2 separate regions of the Homo sapiens genome follow, and region 1 is linked to region 2. Evidence: fine-mapped expression QTL. Tissue or cell type: blood mononuclear cells. Region 2 holds a variant in brackets; the other region holds the start of a gene. All regions are shown on one strand. Distances are between the middles of the regions.

Region 1 (8,226 bases), 480 kb before region 2:
ACTCCCAACCACAGGTGATCCGCCTGGCTCGGCCTCCCAAAGTGTTGGGATTACGGGCGTGAGCCACCGCACCTGGCCCCCATGCTAGTCTTGATTGCTACTTCCAAATGCCTGGGCAACTCTCATTGGTCTGCTTGCATTCAGGCCCCGTCACTTGAAGTTATCTGAAAGAGAAGGCTGAGGACTCCCGAGGGAAAAGGGAAGATATGCAAACAGAGATAAGCAGGGAGAGGTAAGATGTGCTTGGAAAACTACTAGAAGGAGGGTGGAGGGTGGGGGCACATAAAGGCCTGGAAGAAATGAGGCTGAAGGGACAAGTAGGTGCCAAATTATGAAGGTCCGTGCAAACCATACTAGAGGCATTTGGCCTGATAGGTTTTAGGCTCTCAGAGGCAACAGCAGATGGGTATTTACCTTCTATCACCCATGGCCCTCTTATTCTTATTATTTTTCTAATAGCCTCTTCAGAACTTTTCCTCTTGCTCAGCTGTAGGAGATCATAAGTTCCCTACGCTTGAGTGTTCAAACTGAGAGCAGATGGTCACTCAACAGTGGGTGAGCAAGGTGCCAGGTTGCCAGGGATCAGTGTGGAATCTTAGCTTACCTACCCTCAGCTGAGTAAGAGCTTACTCAGCTTGGGGCCGGGTGCAGTGGCTCATGCCTGTAATCCCAGCACTTTGGGAGGCCGAGGAGGGCAGATCACGTGGTCAGGAGATCGAACCATCCTGGCTAACCTGGTGAAACCCCCGTCTCTACTAAAAATACAAAAAAAAAAAAAAAAAAAATTAGCCGGGCGTGGTGGCGAATGCCTGTAGTCCCAGCTACTCAGGAGGCTGAGGCAGGAGAATGGTGTGAACCCAGGAGGTGGAGCTTGAAGTGAGCAGAGATCACGTCACTGCACTCCAGCCTGGGCGACAGAGCAAGACTCCACCTCAAAAAAAGAAAAAAAAAAAAAAAAATGAGCTTACTCAGCTCTTAACACAGAGCTAGTACTTAAACTCCCTGGGCTTTAGGGCTTTAGTTTCTTCATGGATAAAATAAAAAAATAATAATGCCAACCTCAGAAGGGGTCTTGTGAGAGTTAAGTGAAATGTATATGAAAACTCCAAATAAGGACTGGCATGAGCTACACAAAGGCCACGTGTACAGGACTGTAATGGATGCAAACGAAAGGCAGGACCCAAGCCCAGCTTGCCTAAAAGTCTTTTATGCCATTACTGAACCCATGAAAATGCTGCTGGTAGCCTTTAGGCCACCAGTGTGCTATCCTTGGCCCAAACGACCCCACACTACACCTGAAATTCTGTGTTTTAGCCTCTGAATTGGTAAACCAGTATTTTTCTACCACTGAGTGCAAATTCATACAACCTTTCCATTTCACGCAAGCGCCTGCACGTAGAAAGTTGTAACAGGAGGTTGAGAAAAGTAAGAGTACGAAAGAAACCAGAACAGTAAATGGGAATGAGGCTTTTGGTAGGGTTAGCACTGACGACAACACTGTATGCAGTTCACTAAGCATCCAGATTATGACTTGGGTGGTTGTACTCTTGGGAAGTTCCTCATGAGTCAGAATTATCTTTTGTAGTTAACTTTATATGATGTTCATGCTAACACCATGCTCACCATGCTCACCTGAGCAATTCATAAACATTTCAGGAGGAGAAACACAGTGACTTCCCCAACACACCCATACAACAGTTTCAACATAATTAGTAGCATTTCTGGATCCGGCACAGTACTCTTATAATGTATATGATGGAAGAAATGAACAACTCTAATTACACCTTATTAAATCTTAATCCTCATTAGGACCCTATTATTCCTTATAAGTGAGTTACTGAAGGAAAAAAAAAAAGGAAATGCTGGTCAAGTCCCGTTATATTCCATGAGGATTGAGATAATCCATTTTTACTTCATGTAACACTGGAATTCTTTTCATACTAAACAGTAGTACTCAGAATGTGAGTACGCTGAAATGTTTGAGTGAGTGGATTGTGTTTTGATAGGATCTGACCTTTTCAGAACCCCAGAAAAAACTCTCTCCAAGAGCCCGTATCTCCCATTTCAAACTATGTTAGTTGCAAAGAGATAAATTCTTTATTAGTCTGTGGAATGGGTGGTTATTCTCGACCTTATCTCTCTGTTACTGCCTTCATATATATATATGTATGTGTGTATATATATATGTGTGTGTGTATATATATATGTATATATATGTGTATATATATGTATATATATGTGTATATATGTATATATATGTGTATATATATGTGTTTGTATATATATATATTTTTTTTTTTTGACAACAGTCTTGCTCTGTCCCCCAGGCTGGAGTGCAGTGGCGCAATCTCGGCTCACTAAAACCTTTGCCTCCCGGGTTCAGGCAATTCTCCTGCCTCAGCTTCCGGAATACCTGGGATTACAGGCGCTCGCCGCCACGCCCAGCTAGTTTTTTGTATTTTTGGTAGAGATGGGGTTTTGCCATGTTGGCCAGGCTGGCTCGAGCTCCTGACCTCAGGTGATTTGCCCGCCTCGGCGTCCCAAAGTGCTGGAATTACAGGTGTAAGCCACCGCGCCCAGCCATGTTCATATTTTTGTATGTGTACATTAGATAGTTGAGAGGAACACAGAGGTTAAGTAGTCTTACCCCTGAAATGTCTGAATTCAAACACTTATTAAGCACAAGGAAGGTGCTTAATAAATCCAATAACATGTGTTTTTACATTATTTCCTTAATTCCTGGTCAAAAGAATCCCACTAAAGTCCATCCTCAGAAGAACCACTTTTTGGAGTTTTTATGAATCAGTAGCTCATGGTGTACTCTCAACAGTTATGAATGGAATTAGGTCCTGCTAGAGGTCAGGGCCAGGTATGGAAAGATGAAGGGATTAGTCAGGAGACCTGGATGGGAGGAGGGGAAGACAGGTGCTTGGTCAGTCAGTTGTTTTGTGTTGGGCGAGTAACGTTTCTTAAGTTTTTGTCTGAGGTGTAAAGGGGGGACTACGCTCTGTCCTATCTAACTCACCTGAAGATGCAATAGCCGGGTGAGAGACTGCTTTCATTATGTGCTAACGTGAGGGATTACTTTAGATATTAATAGGAGAGAAGTGCAAGGAAAGGAAGTCTCAGGGTATGGAATGCTTTCCTGGCCATGGCTGCTGCGCGTCATAATCCCCTAACACAGTTAAGTGGTGGTTCTCATCGTCGTTCACCCTTACAGATGTCAGAGGGGAAAGAAAAATCCAACTCAAAACTTCCAATGACAGGCTTGTCTGTATTCAAACCAGTTCATCTCGTTCGCAGACTTTTTTGAAGCTATAAGCACAGAGCAAGCTTTCTGGGCGGGGCTCAGAAGTAAACGTTAAACTCCAGGGATTCATTTATTTGAGCACAGGACAGAGGAAGTTGCCCTGAAGCAACTGATTGTCATTGATATTCAGGGCTCGCTGTCAACCAGGACCTTCCAGGAACTGGCTCTGGGCCAAGAGCAGTAGAAATCACTGGGTGGTCCGCACAGCTCGCGGGCATCTAACCTGCTTCAAGGCTCAGGGCTAAAAGGGAGCCAGGGCCCTTCCTGGAGGCGGGAACCCAAGTGGGAGGCAGAGCGCCTGGGCCCGCTCCTCGATCTGCTGAGTGACGACCCTGTACAAGTCATTTCTCTTCCGAGAGCTTCAGTTTCCTCACGTGCCAAGCGGACGGGTTGGAAGTTGGTCTTTGCCAGCTCTGACACCTTGTAAGTTTTGAGTCTTGCTGGGAATCCAGGGCGGGGCTCACGAGGAAAATCTTGGAAGGGGATTTCATGGCTGGATCTCTTCCACTCAAGCTCAGTGCCCTAATTTGACGCCTTAATAGTAGACGCAGGCTTTTCCATTTTCCAGGAGCCCCCTGACGCGGCCGCTTCCTCCTACGTCTCCTTCCTCTTCCTCTAGCAGGGGCAAAGTCTCCACATCTCCCTCTTTCTCTTCCTCCTTTGCAAGCTCCCTGCATTCCCGCGTCTCCTCCTCTTCCTCCCAGGAAATGCAATGCCCTCAGTGCGCCCACCTTTTGGCAAAGCCACTGCCGGCTGCGGGTTTCCCCTCCCCCGCCAGGCGAGCTCTGCGCGGCGGCTTCGCGGGCACACGCCTTCCCATACCTTACATGGACAAATGCGTGCAGGCAAAGTCAGGAATTCAGGCCCCTGACGTCAGCCTCCAGCGCTCAGGGCACCGCACGGGAGACCAAGGGGAGGGGGTGGGGACGGTGGGGAGGAAGGAGGGGGAAAGGCACCAACCAGCAGCCGCTCCAGCCCTGCCGAAGTTTCACTTTTTGTCTGTGGGTTCGTTCCCGGGTCCCGCGCGAGCTTTCCCGGGATAAGTAGCTTTAGCGATCGGGAGACAGCCGGGCGCTGCAAGGTAAGGGCTGGCTGCACGGCCCGGGGCGCGGGGCGTGGGGCGCTGGGCGCGGGCGGCGCGCTCGAGGAGGCCAGTGTGGGGCGCGGGGCCGGGCCTGTCCGGGGCTGGGGACAATGGGAGGGGGAGTGCCCGGGCACCTCCTCCTCTGCCTCTGCCTCCGCCTCCAGCCGCCGCCGCCGCCGCCGCCGCCGCCACCACCACCGCCGCTGCCCCGGCTGCCTCCTCCCTGAGGTATTGTTGCAAATCCTTCCTTCCCCTCACCCTCCACCCGCGGGCGCCTCGGGAACCCCCAGCCCTCCCCCGGCGCGAGCGCCTCCGGGGTGGCAAGAGCGCAGGGCGCGCGCCCTGCTCTGGCCTGGCCCGCTGTGCGGAAGTGCCGGCCGCGGCCCAATCACGGGGTGCACGCCATGGGGGAGGGGGACCCAGAGTTTTTCCAAAAGCGTCGACCCCAGGCTAGGCGGGGTTGGAGCCTTGCGCGCCCCCTGCCCGGACTTTTCTGGGCGCCCAGGGGGCGGGGCCACGCCCATCCGCTTAGAGCTTTCGCGGAATCACAGTTGTCACAGCGGAAAGGGCCTAGACCCAGTCCTCCAAGTCCTCCCATTTTACAGTTGGGGCAGCTGAGGCCCAGAGAGAAGGAGGGTCGCCCGGAAGTTATTTACTAGAGGCCAGACCATAATTCAAATAGTTGGCTCCGGACTTAAGTTCCCTTTCTCTAAGCATTTCTCTAGCACCCTGTGTGTGGCAGACCCTGTGCTGGGTGTATTGGACGTTGCCCTCAAGGAACTCAGTTGAACCTGGGAGTCAAACCTGGCCTAGGGTAGAAAATGCTAAGTGCTGGAGCAAAGGCGTGGACAAAGTTAAAGGAAGTTCCAGGGAGGGGGTTTGATTTTCTGGTCCCTGGGACGGCCTTTTGGAGAGTCCTGCACTGAATGGGGTTTTTGGAGGTTGAGGAGTTTCCTGAAGCCAGCTAGCGGCTTGGAGGAAGACATCTCTTCGAGGGAACCGTGGGCCAGAGAAGACTAAGTAGTGTGGGAAATGGAGATGAAAGTATAAATATTCTTTAGTTGGAGGCAAGGGGTTGGGGATGGGGGAGGTTGTGATATGAGATGAGCTAATCAGTGGAATTGTGCCTGGGTGCTTGGACAGGGCAGAGTCTTTGGAACCTCGGAGTCGTAGGAGAACTGAAAAATCTCTCTGGCTTCCCTTCCCTTAGAAGGGATCCACTGCTTTCCCTCCCCCAACACAAAACAACTAGCGAGAACTCAGGGTCTTCTCTGGGGCTTTTGCTAGTACCAAACTCACTTAACTGTGTTTCCAGTCCCCTTTCTCTTTCCATTCCTTCCCCTTTTACTAAATCTCTTGCCTTTCCTGTAAAATTCACTCTCACTAAGGTGTTGATGACTTAATGGCTTACCTTTCCCTGCACATGTGCATTTTAAGAAAGCCTAAAGTGAAGAAGGGGAAAGTGTGGCTAGGCACCTTTACAAAGCATCTAGCTCCCTCTCCCATCCTCCCCCTTCCTCAACTCTTATAGATAGAAGAATAGGTAAAGGTCCACGAAGGTGGGTGCTAGACCTAGAGCCTATGGTCAATAATGGTGGACAGTGGGGGGTTAGGACATCCAATATGGTTTTCTCCACTTCGTCACCAGTTTTTCTGCTTGCACAGTTCCTGCCAGCACCAGGGGGCAGTTAAAGGAAAAAGTGTGTGGGCCAGGCACGGTGGCTCACGCCTGTAATCCCAGCACTTTGGGAGGCCAAGGCGGGCGGATTGCCTGAGCTCAGGAGTTAGAAACCAGCCTGGGCAACATGGCAAAACCCTGTCTCTACTAAAAATACAAAAAATTAGCTGGGTGTGGTGGCGGGGAACTGTAGTCCCAGCTACTCGGGAGGCTGAGGCAGGAGAATCGCTTGAACCCGGGAGGCAGAGGTTGCAGTGAGTTGAGATCACACCACTGCACTCTAGCCTGGGCGACAGAGGGAGACTGCCTCTCAAAAAAAACAAAAAACAACAACAACAAACAAAGGAGAGTGTGCATTTTTGCATTTAATTTCTACAATGCAGGCCCCAACCCCAACACCCAAAACTTTATAGTCTAGAATGTAGGCTCCAGAGGGGATTACCTATTCTGAATGGTAGGGGTAAAAGCCTGGGGCCTTAGGGTCTGGCAGTCCCCCCAGAGGCAGGCTCTCTGTAAGCAGCATGGGTCTAGAGTTGGTTTTGAGTGTACGCAGAGGGAGGAGAAGCTGAGCTGATGAGCTGATTGCTGTGGCTGGGACTTGAGTAGGATCTTTCTTAGAGTGACACATTCTGGTGAAGACAGTTCCAGGAAATGATGGACGGGAGAGGAAACTTGGTTATAAAGGGGCTTAAAAATGCCAGGCTAAGGAGTTTGGATATATCTTAAATTCATCATTTGAGGGTTTTGAGCAGGCTGAGACATGATTTAGAGGGGAGGTACTGGCATCGAGAAGCCCCCTGCTGCCCAATTCCAATGAGAGAGGTAATAATTTGGCCTAAGAATATTATTGGCTTGGCACGATGGCTCAAGCCTGTAATGCCAGCACTTTGGGAGGCTCGAGGCAGGTGGATCACCTGAGGTCAGGAGTTTAAGACAGCCTGGCCAACATCGTGAAACCCCGTCTCTACTAAAAATACAAAAATTAGCCGGGTGTGGTGGCATGTGCCTGTAGTAGTACCAGCTGCTTGGGAGGCTGCGGCAGGAGAATCACTTGAACCTGGGAAGAGGAGGTTGCAGTGAGCCGAGATTGCACCATTGCACTCTAGCCTGGGTGACAGAGTGAGACTCCATTTCCTCTGCTGCGCCCCACCCCCCCAAGAAAAATAATATTATCAATTGGTTCTTGTTCATTTACTCGACATAGGTTACTGAATACCTATTACGTACCATTGGCAAATATGAAAATTTTATAGCAGATTCCTGTATTTTATTGAGACAAATACGTTGTATCGAATCAATTGTAAAACACACTTTTTTCACATTTTAATATCACTGAAATGTGGTTGTCTTATTACAATGTACCATAGTTGTGCAGTTGTTTTTCATCCTAAGTTGGTAATGGCACATCTTATAGTTGATGGCTTAAATCTGATAAAATTGTTCATCATGTCGTTTATGAATGTACAGTGCTTTGCACTTTATAAAACACTTTCCAATCAGATACTCCATTTGAATCTCAAAGGTCCCCTGAGAATGAGGCCTGCTGCTGCTGTCACCTTTATTTTAACCCTTGCCCAAGGTCATATAGCTAATTAGGGATGTGTTCAAAATTACAACCCAGAACTTTTGCTTCTTGGTGGTGACGTGTGACTTTACCCTGCTGTTGAGCCAGTCTGGGTTAATTGGGAATGGGGCAAGAGTTAGATCGGATTTGATTTCAGAACTATGCTGAAGATGCTGGATGATGGGGATTTTGTACACGGGTAGAGTGTAACTCATAAGAACTGTGTAGCCCCCTTAGCACAGATATTTGCTGCATTAAGCAGAAAAAAGACAGGGAGATAGAAAATGGCAGGTAGCAGGTAAAACCCGGGGTTGGAGCCTGCTTACGGTGAACCAGAAACTGGCTTGGCCCTGAGCGTACAAAGATGAGGTGTACATGGTCCCTGCCTTTGAGGAGCACACAAGTGTGTGGTGTGTGTGAGGGGGAGGGAAAAAGGTGGAGTGGGGCATGTCCGTGTATTAAGTGCTTTTACAGGGTAAGTTTTGGCTGCTCTTCACTGAGAAGGCTCACCCTCAGGGAAACCACTATAGAGAGGGGGGTGTCTGAGCTGAACCTCTAGGAATGAGTAGGAGTTGTCCAGGTGGAAGAAG
Region 2 (8,226 bases):
CAAGGCCTCACAGTATAATTAGGACTTTAACAAAAATCCATAAAACCTCTGGTATTGGGATATTTAAGATAATACATTGATATATACTTTATCACTGTCTTTGATAAAATAACAGTAAAACCATTTTAATGGGACACATTTTTATAACCATTGTGAATTTGGTCCTCAAAAAAGAACTCACTGAGATGATGAGATAATGCATATTCATCCTCTTTTACAGATGATGAAACATTTCGGAGAAGGCAAGTCAGTTTTCCAATTTTTCATACTATATAGATCATTGAATCTTTGTCCCTTATATACAGAATCAACAATATGAAATATGTGGAACTTGAAATCATAGTTTCCAACTTTTCTGCCTATAGAATGCCCATTTCCAGTTGCTTAACATTTAGATTGATAAACATGAAATTCATTAAACAGGAAACTGAATAAGAGACCTGGACTAATATTTAGGTATTACTTAGTATTCCATCCAAGAAGTGTCTGCAGACAGTGACTCCATAGATGATAAGGTTGCACATATTTCAGAAGCCAAATAAATGTTGTGATTAAATGATTCAAGTCTGTTAACCATTTGGTAGTTATGATGTAAATGGCTGTTAAATGGAAAGCATTTGTAAAAATGTATGTGCAAAAATAAAGGATTTCTAACAAACCGAATGGGCCTTACCTATTTTAGTTAATACTCTCAATAATGAGCAGTGAGATTAATTTATAAGTATGTGTGTGTGTGTGTTAAGATATATTCACATTTTATGAAACCTGAAGCTTTGAAGCTTATCACTGTGGAAATAACTTCTGTATGCATAAAAGTATTATATTATTTCGGTAGGACTGCTATAACAAAATACAGTCAGGCCTTCATATTCAAGTAGGCTGCATTCAGAATTCAACCAACTGCCAATGGAAAGTGTTTGTAAAAAATAACAAGTAACAATAAAATATTAGAAAATACTACAAATTTCAAAATACAATATAACAAGTATTTACCTAGCATTTACATTGTATTGGGTATTTTAACTAATCTAGAGATGATTTAAACTATGTAAGAGGATATGTGTAGGTTACGTGTATAGCATATCATATATATAAGGGATTTGAGCATCCATAGAGTTTGGCATCTGCATGGAGTCCTAGAACTGATCCCCTGCAGATATGAAGGGACAACTGTACCACAAACTGAGTGACATAAACTACAGATTTTTTTTTCCTCACAATTCTAGAGGCTAGAAGTCTGAGATCAAGGTACTCACAAGGTTGCTTTCCTCTAAGAGCTTTCTCCTTGGATAAAAATGGCCACCTTCTCTCTGTGTCCTCACATGGTCTTTCCTCTGCTTCTCTGTGTCCTAGTCCCTCTTTTTATAAGGACAACTCCAGTCGTATTGGATTAAGGTCCACCCTAGTGCTCTCATTTTAACTTAATGGCCTCTTTAAAGGCCCTTTCTCCAAATACAGTCACAATCTGATATACTAGGGGTTAGGACTTCAACATATTAATTTGAAGGGAGACATGACTCAGCTCATAACAATTATGTAGGCAAATGAACATTTATTTTAAATGACAGAGGAAATGCAACATGTTATAAATTAATAAAAGCTATGAAATACCTCAAAAATCACATTAATAAAAGCTATGAAATACCTCAAAAATCACAAAAATCTTGAAAAATAACACTCTTATGAATTAAATTCCTGATTACTTTTTCTTACATTTTTAGCAGCATATTCATTGATTAACTAACTGTACAACCTAATTTCATAATATTTTCTGCAGAGAGAATACAAAGATAATTTCATGCTGAGAGTTTATTACTACCAGTCCTGCCTTACAACAGGTCCTTAAGGGAATGATAAGCATGAAAGACTGTTACCTACTTCTACAAGGACACCTTTAAGTACATAGCCTGCTAACACTATAAAGCAACTATACTATCAAGTCTACATAAGAACCAGGTAACAACATGATGGCAAGATCAAATGCTTATATATCAGTATTAATCTTGAATTTATGTGGGCTAAATGCCCCACTTAAAGGACACCGAGTGTCAAATTGGATGAAGGAGCAAGGCCCAACTCTATGCTGTTTTCCAGAGTCCCATCTCACATGCAGTGACACCTTTAGGCTCAGAATAAAGGGATGGAGAAAGCTCTATCAAGCAAATGGAAAACAAAATAAAGCAGAGGTTGCTATTCTATTTCAGAAAAAACAGACTGTAAACCAACAATGATTCAAAAGGACAAAAAAAGGGCATTACATAATGATAAAGGGTTCAATTCAACAAGAAGACTTAACAGTTCTAAGTATGTATGCACCCAATAAGGGAGCACCCAGATTTATAAAACAGGTTATTAGAGAACTACAATAGTGGGAGACTTGAACACTCCACTGACATTTCTAGAGAGATCACTAAAGCAGAAAACCAACAAAGATATTTGGGACCCAACACTTGACCAAATGGACCTATGAGACATCTACAGAATATTTCACCCAACAACAACAGAATAAACATTCTTCTCATCTGCACATGACACATACTCTAAGATTGACTACACACCCATTCATAAAGCAATTCTCAAAGAATTCAAAATAACTGACATCATACCAACCACATTCTCAGACCACAGTGCAATAAAAATATAAATCAATACTAAGATCTCTCAAAACCATGCAATTACATGGAAATTAAACAACTTGTTCCTGAATGACTTTTGAGTAAAGAATGAAATTAAGGCAGAAATAAAAAAAATCCTTTGAAACTAATGAAAACAGATACAACATACCAGAGAACACAGCTAAAGCAGTATTAAGAAAAATGTTTGTAGAGACAAACACCTACATCTGTAAGTTAGAAAAATCTCAACAACCTAACATCACACCTAGAGGAACTAGAAAAACAAGACCAAACTAATTCCAAAGTTGATAGAAGAAAATAAATAGTTAAAATCAGAGCTGAACTGAACAAAATTCTGATATGAAAACCATACAAAAGATCACTAAAACCAAAAGCTGTTTTTTTTTGCAAGAATAAATAAGATTGTCAGACTACTAGCTAGATTAATAAAGAACAAACAAAGAGAACCAAATAAACACACTCTGAAATGACAAAGGGTACATTACCACCAACCCCACAGCAATACAAAAAACCCTCAGCGACTCTTATGAACAGCACTGCAGACATACATTAGAAAACCTAGAAGAAATGAATAAATTCCTGGAAACATAAAACCTCACAAGATTGAAGCAGGAAGACATTAAAATCCTGAATAGACCAATAATGAGTTCCAAAATTGAATCAGTTATAAAAAACCTACCAACCAGTAAAAGTTCTGGATAGACCAGATGGATTCCCAGCTGAATTCTACCAGATGTAATAAGACTTGCTGGTACCAATCGTACTAAATAGCTTCCAAAAATCGAGGAGGAGGGACTCCTCCCTCAATCATTCTATAACGCCAGCATCATTCTGATACCAAAACCTGACAGAGATAGAACAACCAAAAGTGAAAACTTCAGGCCAATATCCTTGATGAACATAGACACAAAAATCTTCAACAAAATACTAGCAAATTGAATCCAGCAGCACATCAAAGAGCTAATTCAACCCAATCAAATAGGCTTTAGCCATAGGTTGCAAAATTGGTTCACCATACACAAATCAATGAATGTGATTCATCACATAAAAGAACTAAAGACAAAAAACCACATGGTCATCTCAACAGATGCAAAAAAGGGTTTTGGTAAAATTCAACATCGCTTCATGTTAAAAACCCTCAACAACTTGAAATTGAAGGAACATACTTCAAAATAATAAGAACCATCTATGTCAAACCCTCAGCCTGCATCATACTGAACAGGAAAAGCTGGAAGCACTCCCCTTGAGAACTGGAACAAGACAAGGATGCCCACTTCCACCACTCCTATTCAACATAGTACTGGAAATTCTAGAGCTCCAAATAGAAAGAGAGAAAGTCAAACTATTTCTGTTTGCAGATGATGTCAT[T/G]GTATACCTAGAAAACCCCATAGACTCTGCCTAAAAGCTCCTTGATCTGATAAACAACTTCAGCAAAGTTCTAGACAGAAAATCAGTGCACAAAAATCAGTTGCCTTTCTATATACCAATAATGTCCAAACTGAGACCCAAATCAGGAACACAATCCCATTCACAGTAGCCACAGAAAGAATAAGATACCTAGGAATACAGCTAACCAGGGAGGTGAAAGATCTCTATAATGAGAATTATAAAACACAGCTGAAATAAATCAGAGATGAAACAAATATATGGAAAATCATTTCATGTTCATAGATAGGAAAAAAATCAATATTGTTAAAATTTGGGGCAGTCATACTGGCCGAAGCAATTTATAGATTCAGTGATATTCCTGTCAAACTACCAATATTATCTTTCACAGAATTAGAAAAAAAAAATATTGTAAAATTCATATGGAACCACAAAGAGCCCAAATAGGCAAAACAATGCTAAGCAGAAAGGACAAAGCCAGAGTCATCACAGTACCTGACTTCAAATTAAACTGCAAGACTGCAGTAACTAAAACTTCATGGTACTGGGACAAAAACAGACACATAAACCAATGAAAGAAGCTAGAGAAACCTAGTAATCATGCTGCACACCTACAACCATTGATAGTCAACATTTGTCAACTCAAGATGGATTAAAAGACTTAAACGTAAGACCTAAATCTATAAAAATCTTAGAAGAAAACCTAGGAAATTATATTCTAGAAATACTATTCTAGGCCTTGGCAAAAATTTCATATGAGGTCTCCGAAAGCAATTGCAACAAAAACAAAAATTGACAAGTGAGACCTAATTAAAGAGCTTCTGCAGCACAGCAAAACAAACTATCAACAGAGTAAACAGACAGCCTATAGAAAGAGAGAAAATATTTGCAAACTATGCATCTGACAGAAGTCTGATATTGAGAATCTATATGGAACTCAAACAAATCAGCAAGCAAAAAGCATCCCCATTTAAAAATGGGCAAAGGACATGAACAGACATTTCTAAAAGATGTGCAATTAACCAACAAGCATATGAAAAAATGCTCAACATCAGTAATCATTAGACAAATGCAAATCAAAAACACAATGAGATTCCTTCTGACACCACTCAGAATGGCTATTATTAAAAAGTCAAAATTAATAGATGTTGGCAAGGTTGTGGTGAAAAGGGAATGCTTGTGCACTCCTGTTGGGAATGTAAATTAGTTCAGTCTCACTGTGGAAAGCAGTTCAGGGATTTCTCAAAGAATGTAAACTAGAACTACCATTTGACCTAGCAATCCCATTACTGGGTATATACCTAAAGGAATATAAATTGTTCTATTAAGTTGGTGCAAAAGTAATTGTGGTTTCTGCCATTAAAAGTAATGGCAGAAACCTAATGAAAAGACAAATGCACTTGTATGTTCATTGCAGCACTATTCAAAATAGCAAAGACCTGGGATCAACCTAAATGCCCATCAATAATAGACTGGGTAAAGAAAATATGGTATGTATGCACCATGGAATACTGTGCAGCCATGAAAAGAGCGAGATCATGTCCTTTGCAGGGACATGGATGGAGCTGGAGGCCATTATTCTTAGCAAACTAACATGAACGGAAAACCAAATACCACATGTTTTCACTTGTAAGTGGGAGCTAAACACTGAATACACATGGTCACCAAGAGGGGAACAATAGACACTAGGACATACTTGGTGTAGAGGCTAGGAGAAGGGTGAGGGTCGAAAAACTATCTATTGGGTACTGTGATCACTACCTGGGTGATGAAATAGTTTGTACACCAAACCCCTGGGACACACAACTTACTGATGTAACAAACCTGCACATGTATCCCCTGAAACAAAAATAAAAGTTGAAAAAGAAAGAAAATAATGTTTATACTTAGAAAAAAAATTATCTTTCTTCTAGCCTGAGTGATAAACATTTTTTATTATTATAGTTTTTAAAAGTTTGGAAAACTGCCTTTAATCTGCACAACTTTTATTAGTATTGTTGTTTGAAATTTAAGATAATCAAATTTGGGGACACTCCTATTAAGTTTCTTTTATTTGTGAGCTATTACAACACCCTTACTCTTACTGCAGATTCATAGCTGATGAGTTCTATTTTGTGCAATTAGCATCAAAAAGAAAAATCAAGTCAGCCGTGCATTTATAATTGTGTTCAGTGCATTACTAAGCACATTCCTAAAGAGAAAGTATCTCCATTTGCATCATCGAAAACCAAGTAGTACTCCACATGTATACTTTTACACATCTGACTATTGGTTGAATTTCCAGCAGACTCAATTTCTGTCTCTATGCATTTTACTCCTGTTTGTCTCCTCTACTAGTCTAATTTCCATGCTGGGTGTTATAGGACACATTAATGACACGTGACTTCTGGTCCCACAAATCTGTGTCACAGAGCTAGGACAGTAATGGGCCCAGGCACATTGAAGCATTCCAGGAACTCATTCCTATACAATGACGATGGGTGATGACTTAAGCACACACCATAGTGACTGCAGACCATGTAAATATATCCCATGACACTCAGCTAAATGTCTCCCTGACTCAACCTTTCTTAACCAATCTCAAAGGTCACATGTTGATTCTAACATTTCCCTACATGAGCGTACACAGAAGACAGAGTAGAAGAACCATAGTGAACATACAGCTTGGTCCCCTCCCAAGACCTTAGTAGGGGCCAGTGTACATGAGGGCCCCTGAAGCTTCATTTCCTTCCTCGTCAAAGCATGTTTATTTAAAAGTATTTATTTTACTCTGGATACTTCCTCAGAAATAGTTATTCCTTTCCTTTTTTCCCTCCCTCTCTCCTTACCTCTGTCTTTTCCTCAAACATTTATTTAGTGTATACTATATTCTAGACCCCATGTTGAAGAATAAGATACATATGCTGATGTCTACAGCACTGCATAGAAAGTAATGGGTAACCTAAGTGGTTACAAATAAAATCTACTAGCTATCCTGGTGATTTAAAGGCCACCTTCAGCTGAATGTTCAGGAAAACCTTTATGAGGAAGTAGCATTTGATCTAACCTATAGGACCGGTAGGATAGGGCCTGGGTGGGGAGACTGGGAGATGGAAAGGCATTCCAGTGTGCTGGTGCTGCACATGGTGGGACTTCTATCACATGTATTCTCTATCTGTAACAGTTAAAGTTTTTTGGTTACTTGGCCTGGGTAATGGCAAAGCAAATGTACTAAAAGAAACTCTGGTTTTGTGGCCACCTCAGTTCCTTTGGAGAATGTCCTCTCTCAGCTGAAGCTGAGAACATCCAGTCACATTTCTGTTCTGGAACCCCTTAAGCTGTTTCTGTGACAACATCTGAAAGAATTAAGCTTTATCCAAGTCACCAGAAAAGGGCTTACGTTAACTGTTTTCACTAAGACTCTACGTTTCAATACTAACACTTACGGACAAGTGGAAGGTATTCTTCAGTTGTATTTGGTAGTTCTTCTGTAGCGCCCCTTTTGTCTTCCTCCATTTCTCTCTTGCTAGCCCTCAACTCTACCCCACGTTCGTTTTCATTATCTTTTTTCTCATCCCCCATTTCCTGCTTATTTGTTTATTCTGGTGGCTCTTCTCTCTCTCATAGACGACATAGAAGCATGGCCTTCTTTCTGAACTTTCCTTGACCCAGAGGGAGAAAAGTCTAACATACTATCTTATTTATGCAATCTGAGGAAAGTTGTTGGCCAGCCATCACCCAGTGTGACCTAGTGACAGAACCAGTAGGGATATCTGAGTGTTCAGTCTTTGAATGATTCTTCCAAGTCATATAGATGTGTTGATTACTTCAATCTTGAACAAGATATGTTGTCACTATCATACTGGGCTATGAGTACTTGAGAACAGGGAACTGTGTAGTAAAATTCACCACATATGCTGGTAGCACACAGGCATCAACCAGTCTAAACAGAACCCACCCGGGTCACCTCCCACGTCACTGCTAAGACACAGTTCTTTACACAGACCATGTAAATGCTGTTGTGTTGTTTTGTCAAAGCTTCTATCACTCTTCTTGCTGTAATTTGAGAAGCAAAAGCATTAATAACCAGTTACTTACATAACTGGTATTGTAAGGCTTACTGGTGGCAGACAGCATTCCTGTGAGCAGTATTAGCACACCTCTCGATGAGAATGGCTGTGAACTACATTCTTTGGAGTAACAATAAGAAAGACTATACAAAACC

The links. PIP is the estimated chance that this variant, and not a neighbour inherited with it, causes the effect.
Region 1: LPP starts here. The variant in region 2 is fine-mapped to the expression of LPP in blood mononuclear cells (TOPMed, PIP 0.92).

Annotation. Positions count from the first base shown.
Region 1 is chr3:188,149,631-188,157,856 of GRCh38, forward strand. It overlaps LPP (LIM domain containing preferred translocation partner in lipoma), which reads left to right and starts at 4,527. Exons shown (of 12, transcript NM_001375462.1): 1 at 4,527-4,622. LPP-AS2 (LPP antisense RNA 2) reads right to left here and starts at 4,458. Exons shown (of 1, transcript NR_036497.1): 1 at 1,576-4,458. RefSeq lists enhancers at 3,062-3,962, 5,762-6,660 and a silencer at 4,395-4,734.
Region 2 is chr3:188,625,301-188,633,526 of GRCh38, forward strand. All of the region lies in intron 7 of LPP (LIM domain containing preferred translocation partner in lipoma), which reads left to right. The region is part of intron 2 of LOC124906316 (a long non-coding RNA gene); the gene reads right to left. Among named protein-coding and RNA genes, the nearest start is that of MIR28, 59 kb to the right of the region's middle. The variant T/G (reference allele first, on the strand shown) is at 4,005.